2 separate regions of the Homo sapiens genome follow, and region 1 is linked to region 2. A link means that fine-mapping ties the variant in region 2 to the expression of a gene that starts in the linked region. Tissue or cell type: whole blood. Region 2 holds a variant in brackets; the other region holds the start of a gene. All regions are shown on one strand. Distances are from middle to middle.

What was found. PIP is the estimated chance that this variant, and not a neighbour inherited with it, causes the effect.
Region 1: PAIP1 starts here. The variant in region 2 is fine-mapped to the expression of PAIP1 in whole blood (INTERVAL, PIP above 0.99).

What each region holds. Positions count from the first base shown.
Region 1 is chr5:43,554,236-43,559,235 of GRCh38, forward strand. It overlaps PAIP1 (poly(A) binding protein interacting protein 1), which reads right to left and starts at 2,842. Exons shown (of 11, transcript NM_006451.5): 1 at 2,347-2,842; 2 at 1,595-1,764. The coding sequence starts at 2,611. RefSeq lists a silencer at 2,278-3,137.
Region 2 is chr5:43,923,418-43,929,707 of GRCh38, forward strand. No RefSeq gene overlaps it. Among named protein-coding and RNA genes, the nearest start is that of NNT-AS1, 320 kb to the left of the region's middle. RefSeq lists an enhancer at 2,427-2,596. The variant G/C (reference allele first, on the strand shown) is at 3,039.

The DNA.
Region 1 (5,000 bases), 370 kb before region 2:
TCATAAAACAGCCCAAGTCAATAGGGAAGAAAATAAATGGGAACCTGCTTGTAGCTGCTAGAACAAGCATCCTTAAGAGTTTATTCAACCTCTTACAGTGGCTCTAATGGTTCTTTTCCTCTGTGAGCTAAATACAATTTTCTGGCAAGAACTCAAGATGCTCTCATTTCTACCTTACACGATAGATGGCCTTTTTCACCCCATATCAATTGCTTTTCCTGCTATGCCTGTATCTTTTTCTTTCCAATCCCAAAGCTTTTTCCTATACAGCATAAGAATCATGGAGTATCTAAAACATGGAACACAGCTTTTTCCATACTTTTACTGTCAAATATGGAAGGAGAGCCAAAAAGAGGTAATAAAAAAGGTGTGTCATTATCAGTTATAAGGGAAATATAAATTAAAACCACAACTAGATACTATATGCCCACCAGAATGGTTAAACAGAAAATACCAAGTGCCGACCAGGAAGCAGAGTAACTGGAAATCATACACTACTCAGAATGTACAGTGGAACAATCTCTGGAAAACTACTTGGCAGTCTCTGCTAAAGCTGGCTACCCTAAGTCCCAGCAACTCCATACCTTGGTAATATACCAAAAAGAAATAAAGGCATACAGCCAGCAAGACACAAAATGTGCCCTATTCATAATAACCCAAGAGTGAAAGCTACCAACGTTCATCAACAGACAAATGGGATATATTCATGCAATGGAATGTTATAAAAATAAGTCACCTCCAATTATATGCTACAATATGGAGTAATCTTGATATTGAAAGTGAGAAAGAATATATTCTATATGACTTTATTTATATAAACTTTGAACACAGGCAAAACTATCCTATGAAGTCAAAACAGTGCTATACTTGGACATCAAGAACAACTGGAAGGAGACAGAGTGGGTTTTCGGGATGTTGATAATGTTCTATTTCCTGACTGGGATGCTGGTTAGTTGAGTGTTCACTTTATGAGACTGAGCTAACACTTAAGTACACTATTCTCTGCTATACTTCAATAAAACTAAGAAGATAGGAAAGACAGGATTTAAGCTAAAGTATCATCAATCATTTCTCCAATGATTCCCTCCCACTTCTCTATAATTAATCCCTATGCATTTACTCATCTGGGTTTATCCAGTACAACAAATTCCTTTCTACATATTCCAACTGTGCTTTGTACGGCTATTTAAGAAAAGTGACTATTTTTTAAAGTTGTTATATAAGTGACAAAGAAAAACTGAAAGTTTAAACATTCTTTATACCTATGTAAATACTTTATCACAACCCCGTAGGACATTTCTGCATACAATAATTAGGATCAAAACTATGTCTATTTTAACATAATGGAATAATCACTAGAAACAAGAACACAGATGTGTATCTCAAGCTTACATTCTAATACCTTGAATATAACTACAAAATGTATTTCTGAATCAGCTTTGTTTCCTTCTGAGTTCAATAATTCAAAACATTCACAATAAAAAAATTTTTTTACGTGTAGTACAGAAAGCACAAACATACTCTGATTAACAAAGTAACAACCACATTATTCCAGTAAATTAACCCAGAGTTGTAGGAAAAAGGGTGTACTTACTGTGTAACTGGAAGAATAACCTGAAGGGTAAAATTCAGGGGCATTCACAGACAGCTTAGACATTAATACAGGAGCTACAACCACCTGGGGCTTAGCCATTGCTGACTCCGAGTTCTGCTGTGGGATTTTATCCTGTGAACTAGGTGGAGCTCTCAGGGGCCTCGTTTGCTCTGCAAAAGAAAAAAAAACGGGGCGTCAGATGCATTCTTTCCTTTGTACAGCAACTTGCTATATACTGAAAAACCATCTGAAAAGCGTCTGTTTTTAAGAGTTAAACAGGAACCATCATGAAATTTATGGTTATCGCCGGAATGTGTACAGACAGCCTACAAAAAGGAACAATAGACTTGCTGTGACTCCGTTATGGGCATACCTGCCTCTCAAATGAGTGCTTGCGAGCTTTTTTCCTCTCTGTCGTTTTAAAGGGGTCGGTGGAAAAGAGGTGGTTACTCGCTAGGGTCTCGCTTTAGAGGGCTGCTGAGGGGAGGCGATTTTTACTTCCTCCCGGGACCCCGAACTCCGAGACCGCGCACCCGGCCCCTCCCCCCAGCCAGGCGCACAAAGGATTCCAGCAGACACCTTCCAAACCCGGTTCCGGGCCCGTCCCTACCCGGTCACGCGGCCCTCTCGGGGAATGCTTTCGGGGAACCGGGGGTGGGGACCGCAGACAGCGCGTCGGGCCTCGGCACGCGTGGAGGGCCGTGGGGAAGCGTTCGCCAAGGAGGACTGGGGCCCTTAGAGCTGCTCCGTACCTGGGAGCGCCCCGGGCCGGGAAGGCCGCTGGGGGCTGGCGGGGACCTCGCACTGGGCCCCTGGCGGCGGGGTCGTCCTGGGCTGGCGCAGCGGCGGTGGCTGCAGGAAGCCCGGGGCTTTGGGTTGCGGCGGCTGGTGCCGCGCCCGCTCAGCAGGCCCCGCTCCGTTCGGGAAACCGCCGCCCTCAGGCCCGCCCCCTCCGCGGCCCAGGCCCCGGCTCCGGCCCCGACCAGCACCTGGGGCCCGATCGAAACCGTCCGACATGCTCCTCCTCCTCCGCCTCCTCCTCCAGGGGCCGCTGCCGCTGCGCTCGCGATAGGACGCGGGGGGAAGGCGCCGCGGGTCGGCTATAGCCGCCGCGCCTCACTCGGGCCTCATGGAGGAGGAGGGCGGCGGGCCCCGGCTCGGCTGCTCGGTGCTTCTGGCGGAGCGGACGGCAGCCCGAGCACCCGCCGCTCCAGAGCGCCCGCCCCGCTCGGCTACCCTCGGCTTTCCAGTTCTCCCCCAAAACCCGGCTCCCCGCCTTCGGCGCGGCAGGGGCGCAGGCGGGTCACAGCGGCCCCCTGCGGCCCGGAGGCCCGGGACGCGCCCGCGAGGATCCTCCAGTTCGCGGCTGGCCGGCCGCCGGGCCCAGCAGGCCGCCCGCCGAGTGGCGTCTTGGCCACCTGCCGGCCCGCAGCCAGGCTCGGGCAGGGGCATCTCGGTTCCGGGGCCAGGCTGGGGGGGATGAGGGATGAGGGGTGAGGGGGACGCTTACCACAGGCAGGCCCGACCTACTCGGTAGTTCTCAGGAGAGACGTGCGAGACCGACAGTTGACGCCCGGGAAATAAAAACACGGGGGGAGGGGGCGTGGACCCTGCGCCAGGGTTCGCTGGCGCACAGGTGTGTTCAATGACTCGGCTCCGGCCGAGACCCGCGGACTGCTGAGGAGTGGTCCCTGGGAGACTGTCACCTGCTCCGTTAGCATCGGGGGAAGGGAGTAGAAACGGAATCAAAATATGTGTCCCCTCTTTAATTCACCCTAGGTGTTTACCACAGTAGGTCACACCTACGTTTAACAAGCTTCGTTCTCTTCCCGTTAACCTTCCCCTCCAGAAATTTCAAGAAAATGTGCTACCTTTCAGTGTAACTCTGCCCTCTTTTTCATCTTGCATCAGTGCTGTCCAATGAAAATATAATGCGAGCCACAAATGCAAGCCACTTATGTAATTTTACATTTTGGAGAAGCCACATTAAATGAGTGAAAAGAAACAGGTGTGGCCAGGCGCAGTGGCTCACGCCTGTAATCCCAGCACTTTGGGAGGCCGAGGGGGGCGGATCACCTGAGGTCGGGAGTTCGAGACCAGCCAGACCAACATGGAGAAACCCCGTCTCTACTAAAAATACAAAGTTAGCCGGGCGTGGTGGCACATGCCTGTAATCCTAGCTATTCTGGAGGCTGAGGCAGGAGAATCGCTTGAACGCAGGAGGCAGAGGTTGCAGTGAGCCGAGATCGTACCGTTGCACTCCAGCCTGGGCAACAAGAGCCAAACTCTGTCTCAAAAAACAAAACAAAACAAAACAAAAACCAGGTGAAATTAATTTAAATTTATTTAATCCATTATGTTCAAAATGGTTTTTTAACATGCGATTTAAAATATTAAATATTTTCTCTGTTTTTTAGATACTAGTTGAAATCCAGTGTATATTTTACACTTATGGCACATCTTAGTCGGGATTGGCACATTTCAAGGGCTCAAGAGCCACATGTGGCTAGTGGCTACTGCGTTGCACAGCACAATTCTAGATTTTATTAATATGTAAATTGTTGTTTTTGTCAGGCCTGACAGTATTAATGCCAAATAAAGGATAGATGAATATAAGTAACGACAAGGAAGGAAAAATTGATTTCTTTACTGTTGGATTGATCCATCTCCATAAATTCTGATTTTAGCCTTTTGTTTTAAGCAGGGTTTCATGTTTTTCTATCTTTTCATCTTAAGAATCATTTCAATTAGGGACACAAACTCTTGTTAACCGTTTTCTCTTCTCATTAATAAAGAAAACAATGTCTTCCCCTAAACGAATGAGAAAATGGCTTCACCGAGGGCAATCATGAATAAATGGTTCATGCTATTGATGTTAGGCAAAATAATGAAGTCAGGGAAGGAAGCCAGCAGTACGTGTGGCTCTTCGGTGTACGGAAAGTTTAGGATTCAGTCTGCCAGAGCTTAGTTGGGATTCCACTCTTGACTATTGCTGTCTGTGTGATTTTGAGTAAGTAAGGGGTTTAGCTTCTCTGAGCCTCACTTTCCTCATCTGTAAAATAATAACTGTGTGGTAACACTCAGCATATATTGCAGAGACAAGATTACAATTTAAAAATTACAATTTTAATATTTTCAAATTCATTATTGTATGTGGTCACCAGTCACTTCTTGCCTGGACTTTTTTATCATACAGGAAAGACCCATAAACTATGCTAAAAAACTAACAATGAGTTATGTTCCACTGAAGTAGATGCCCCAACTCTGCCCCAAGCTTTTGTTTGCACTCACCACCTTTTCATTTCCCCTTAAAACTTTTATGATGAACAGCACCTTTTCTAACAACTGGGACTTTCCCATGTGAAGATAAGGCCATTCTGCATCCATGGTGATGTCACGACATCTT
Region 2 (6,290 bases):
CCTGTCTTCAAGCTCACCAACTCTTTTTTCTGCTTGATCAATTCTGTTATGAAAATACTCTGATGCATTCTTCAGTATGCCAATTGCATTTTTCAGCTTCAGAATTTCTGCATGATTCTTATTTTTAATCTCTTCATTTAATTTATCTGGTAGAATTCTGAATTCCTTCTATGTTTTCTTAAACTTCTTTGAGTTTCCTCAACATAGCTATTTTGAATTCTCTGTCTGAAAGGTTACATATCTCTGTTTCTCCAGGATTGGCCCCTGGTGTCTTATTTAGTTCATTTGGTGAGATTATGTTTTCTTGAAAAAAAATTTTTTTTTGACAGAGTCTCACTCTGTCACCCAGGTTGGAGAAGAATGGTGCAATCTTGTCTTACTGCAGATTCCCCACCCTGGGTTCAAGTGATTCTCCCACCTCAGCCTCCAGAGTAGCTGGGATTACAGGTGCCCATCACCACACCTGGCTAATTTTTGTATTTTTAGTAGAGACGAGGTTTCACCATCTTGGCCAGGGAGGTCTCAAACTCCTGACCTCAAGTGATCCACCAGCCTTGGCCTTCCAAAGTGCTGGGATTACAGGCATGAGCCACTGCACCCAGCCTTTCTGAAATATCTTGATACTTGTAGATGTTAATTTATATCTGGGCATTGAAGAGTTGGGTATTTATTGTAGTCTTTTCAGCCTGAGCTTGGTTTTATCCATTCTTCTCGAGAAGGCTTCCCAGATATTCAAAATGACTTGGGTCTGTGATTCATGCTCTATCTGCTTCAGGGGGCACCCCAAGCTCAATAACACTGTGGTTCTTGCAGACTTGTAGACGTACTGCCTTGATGGTCTTGGACGAGGTCCAGGAGAATTATTTGGATTACTAGGTAGAAACCTTATTTTCTTTTCTTACTTTCTCCCAAATGAATTAAGTCACTCTCTCTCTTCTGAGTCACCTAGGACTTGGGATGGAGTAATATGAACATTCCCGTAGTCACCACCACTATGTCTATACTGGGTCAGACTTGAAGCTAGCACAGCACTGTCTCTCTCATCCAAGGCCATCTGAAAAAACTCCCTGGTTATGGCCTATGTTCACTCAAGGCCCTGGGGCTCTATAACCAGCAAGTGGCAAAGTCAGTCAGGCTTATGTCCTTCCCTTCAGGATGGTGAGTTCCCCTAGGCCCCAGGTGTGTCCAGAGGTGTTATCAGGAGCCAGGGACTACAGTCAATAACCTTAGAAGTCTGCCTTGTGTTCTTTTGTACTGCAACTGAGCTGACACTCAAGCCACAAGATGCAGTTCTTCCTACTCTTTACCCTCTCCTTTCCAAAGGTAAAGGAGCCTCATCCTTTGGCCACTGTCACTGCAGATGCAGGACCACTGCCAGACTACCACCAATATTCCTTCAAGACCCAGGGGCTCTTGACTCAACTGATGGTGAATGCTGTCTGGCTTAGGACTCACACTTCAGGGTAATGGGCCTCTCTCTCGCCCAGGGCAGGCCCAGAAATGCCATCCAAGAGCCAAGTCCTGGAATCAGGGACCCAAAAATCTTGCTTGGTGCTTTACTCTACTGCGGCCATGCTGGTATCTTTGACACAAGTCAACGTCTCCTTTACTTTTCCCTCCACTTTTCTGAAATGGAGGGACTCTTGCCCCATATCTGCCTCAGCTGGGAATGTGCTGATTCTCACCTGAAGTCAGCTAGTCTGACAGTCTCATCCAAGGCTCTTGAGATAGTACCTGGATATTTCTGCTGATTATTCTGGACTCAAGGGCTCTTCAGTTAACAGGTGATAAATCCTGCCTGGACTGGGGTTTTCTTTTCAAGACAGCAATTTTCCTTCTAGCCCAGGGTGTGTCTGGAAATGCCATCTGGGAACTAGGTCCTGGAAAGGGGGCCTCACATCTCTGATTGGTACCATATCTGGCTGTGACTGAACTGGTATCCAAAATGCAAGACAAAGTCCTCACCACTTCTCCCTCTCCTCTCCTCAAGCAGAGGGAAGAGGTCTCTTTTAGAGCCTGAAGTTAGAAGATGGAGTGACTTAACAGTGTATTTTGAAAACACCAGTTTTTAATTTGATGAAGACTAGTTTATTGCTTTTATTTCCTTGATGGTTTGTGTGTGTGTTTGTGTTTTAGGAAATCTGCCTAATCCAATATTCAATAATAATCTCTCTTAGGTCTTCTTTTAGAAGTTTTTAGGTTGAAATTTTATGTTTAGTTCTATGATCATTTTTTTACACTTAATTTTTGTGTATGGTATGATGTAAAGATAAAGACTCCCTTTTGCTCCCTCATATATCCATCTGTTTCAGCACCACCAGTCATTGAAAAAGTCTACCTTTACACCGTTAAATTATTTTGGGACCTTTTGTGAATATCCATTAGCTACATATTGATAGATCCATTTATGAACACTCTATTCTGTTTTTGTTGATCTATATGTCTATGCTTAATAAAATATTACATTGCTCCAATTACCAGAGCTTTATAATAAGTCTTGAAGTCAGATAATATAAATGCTCCAACTTTGTTCTTTTTCAAAAAGGACTTGGTTAATCTAGGTACATTGCATTTCTATATAAATTTTAGAATTACCTTTCAATTACTACTGAAAAGCAAAACAACTAAAGCAACCAAAAAAAAACCCAATATTAAAAAACATTTTTTCTGGGATTTTTGAATAAGATCATATTGAATCTACATATCAATTTGTGAACTGACGTATTAACAATCTTCAATATCTCTTTTTTTATTTCCATAGGTTTTTGGGGAACAGGTGGTATCTGGTTACATGAGTAAGTTCTTTAGTGGTGATTTGTGAGATTTTAGTCACCCATCTCTTGAGCAGTATACACCAAACCCAATTTGTAGGTATAATTCTTCATCTGTTTAGGTACTCTTTAAGTTCTCTTAGCAATGTTTTGTAGCTTTCAGTGCACAGGCCTTGCACATGTTTTCTTAAATTTATCCCTAAACTTTTGAATGCTATTATAATATATGTATTTTTTCAAATTTTATTTTCCCATCTTTCTTTGTTA[G/C]TATACAGCACATAATTGATTTTCCATATTTACTATGTATTTTGTGACCTTGTTAGTACTAGTATTCCTTTTGTAGGTTTCTTATAATTTTCAATGTTTATTATCATGTCACTGAAGAGAGACAATTATTAATTATCAAATGCAAATATTCAGATCATTTACATTTAATGTAATTTTCTATATTATTGGATTTAAATCTGCGGTTTATTTCTTTTTTCTTTTGTTCTATGTTTTGCCTATTATTTTGTCCCTCTTTTCCTCTTTCATTGTCTTTTTACAGATTGAGTGATTTTTTAGTGCTTCATTTTACCTTCTCTGTTGCCTTATTAGTTACACCTCTTTAGTCTATTTAGTGGTTATTCTAGTGTTTACAGTATGCATTTTAAGTTATCACGGTCACTTAATATTATACTACTTCTTAGTCAGATTTTTCACAAATTACTTTTTTAATCCTTTATTTTACTTAACCATTTATCATTATTTGTCAAAGGTTATCAGATGATTGCAACGATTGAATTAATTTATTAATTCTTTTTAAAAAATGAATTGCTCAATCTTTAATGTTTTGCTTTTCTTTCACTATTTGTCTTTGTGTTTGTATCCTGTATACACAATCACCTCTTCCTGTGGGTCTCTTTATTTTCTAGGATGAGTCACCGTCATTCCTAATGGGCTTTATCTAATCTCTTTCTGAAGTTCTGCAGAGGTTAACTTAAGCATCTTCACAAGCAAGTTTATTTCAGAGATCAGCTGCTCATACTGTGAAGAAGAGGTATTACTGAGGGTAGTCTTCAGCCAGGCTTTGTTTGCTCCTGTTCAGATAAAGGGTACCTACCCATTTTTGAATTACTTTATTTCTCTATTTATTTGATTACTGAAAAAGCTGCTACTGGGTTTGTTGAGGGTGAGATCCTTGCAAAGTGGGTTATTTTTTAAATTGGTCCCTGAGGAACATTGAGGAGGTTTCTTAAACCTCTCTGATGTTGAACATAACTCTGTATAGTATGAAATTTACCATATTCACTTCTGCTTAGAAGAAACTTTCAGCTGATGTTGTCTTTAAAACAAAATGTCAAATTCTGTTTGAAGACATGAAGATAGAAGCCCCTTGTGTCTTAACTTTAGTGTAATTTATTGTTATGTGAAAGTGGTAATTTGAAAGAAGATAGTGCTGAGTTAAATAATTCAACATTGTTGAAAAGTGTTTTTTTAATTGACATAACCTTTGAATTTTTGTATTTTACATATTCATTTCATCATATAGCGAAAATTAACCTACATGGTCTTCTTGTATTATCAAGTGGATTTGAAATTTAACACCTTAGCTAGGTAGCCTTGGGATATAATTTAAATCCTCTGTTCTTTAGTTTCTTCATCTCTACAACAGTGATAATGATAGCACCTACCCCATAAGATTGTTCTGAAAATTAAATGAATTTATTATACATAAGGTGCTTGGAAGAATGCTTGACTTGTAATTATTACTCAATATTTGTTAACTGCTATTACCTCATCTAATATTATTTTAAAACTATTCTTTAGTGAGCAAGATAAGAGAAAATAGAAAACAAAAACAAAACAGAAAAAATTTAATGTAGGATATGAACAGACACTTCTCAAAAGAAAACATTTATGTAGCCAACAAACATATGAGAAAAGCTAATCATCCCTTGTCATTAGAGAAATGCAAATCAAAACCACAATGGGATACCATCTCATGCCAGTTAGAATGGCGATTATTAAAAAGTCAGGGAACAACACATGCTGGCCAGGTTGTGGAGGATGTGGAGAAATAGGAATGATTTTACACTGTTGGTGGGAGTGTAAATTAGTTCAACCATTGTGGAAGACAGTGTGGCGACTGTTCAAGGATCTAGAACCAGAAATACCACTTGACCCAGCAATCCCATTACTGGGTATATACCCAAAGGATTATAAGGCATTCTACTATAAAGATACATGCACACATACATTTATTGCAGCACTATTCACAATAGCAAAGACTTGGAACCAACCCAAATGTCCATCAAAGATAGAGTGGTTAAAGAAATTGTGGCACATATACACCACGGAACACTATGAATCCATAAAAAAGAATGAGTTCATGTCCTCTGCAGGGACATGGATAAAGCTGGAAACCACCATTCTCAGCAAACTAACACAGGAACAGAAAGCCGAACACTGCATGTTCTCATAAGTGGGAGTTGAACAATGAGAACACATGAACACAGGGAGGGGAACAACACACACTGGGGCCTGTTGGGGGTTGTGGGGAGCATTAGGACAAATAGCTAATGCATGCGGGGCTTAAAACCTAGATGATGGGTTGACAGGTGCAGCAAACCACCATGGCACATGTGTACCTGTGTAACAAACCTGCATATTCTGCACACATATCCCAGAACCCAAAATAAAAGAAAAAAATGTAATCTATCCAGTTAAGGGAATGAAAATGATCAATAATGGAATTTGGTAGAGTATTTCCCAGAAAAGACAGAGAATACATACAAGATTGTTCTGCTTAATGGAGAAAGCCTATAACATTATCTTTTAAAAACAGCAATGACAACAACAACAGCAGGAATCCAAAACCAAGCCGTCCCATTGGGAAGCTCAAGTTATTAATAGTTGAAAGTCAGTTTGGATTTTCTTTTTGAAAAAAAATCTTTCCCAATATTTGATGTTTGCTTATTTTCATTACAGTTACACAATGTGATATTTATTTGCTTTTTAAGCAAGTAATAGGAAAACAAGGAGTATTGAGTTTATACTTATCTCTGCTACATCAGCTTTTTCCCATTTTCTTTTATTTAGAATTTATAGTAAACTCATCAAATAACATCATTTTTGGTTTGCCACCGCTTGTATTGTTATGTTTGTTTTTTATTTTTCATAGAATGAGAGTTTGAGCTACACATTCAATTTCATTGATAGTAAACTTCCTCTTGTCTGGATGATGTCTTTGTGGGTTTTGTAATGTTAACCATTCATGATGAAAATGATGTAAGCTTTCCTCTACTCTCTACAAAAAACTAGAGATAGACTCAATTTGAGACAGTCCAGTGTAATGATTAGATGATTACTAGAGTCCATGTAAGTTTAATATTTGCATTTGATATATTAGGCTTATTTGGTTGTATGATTAGTAGATTTTTGCTTTAAAATTATTAATCATGTTATAGTAACATTTATAATGAATGCTACAGTTTGAATGTGTTCTCTAAAGCCCATTTTTTGAAAACTTAATCTCCA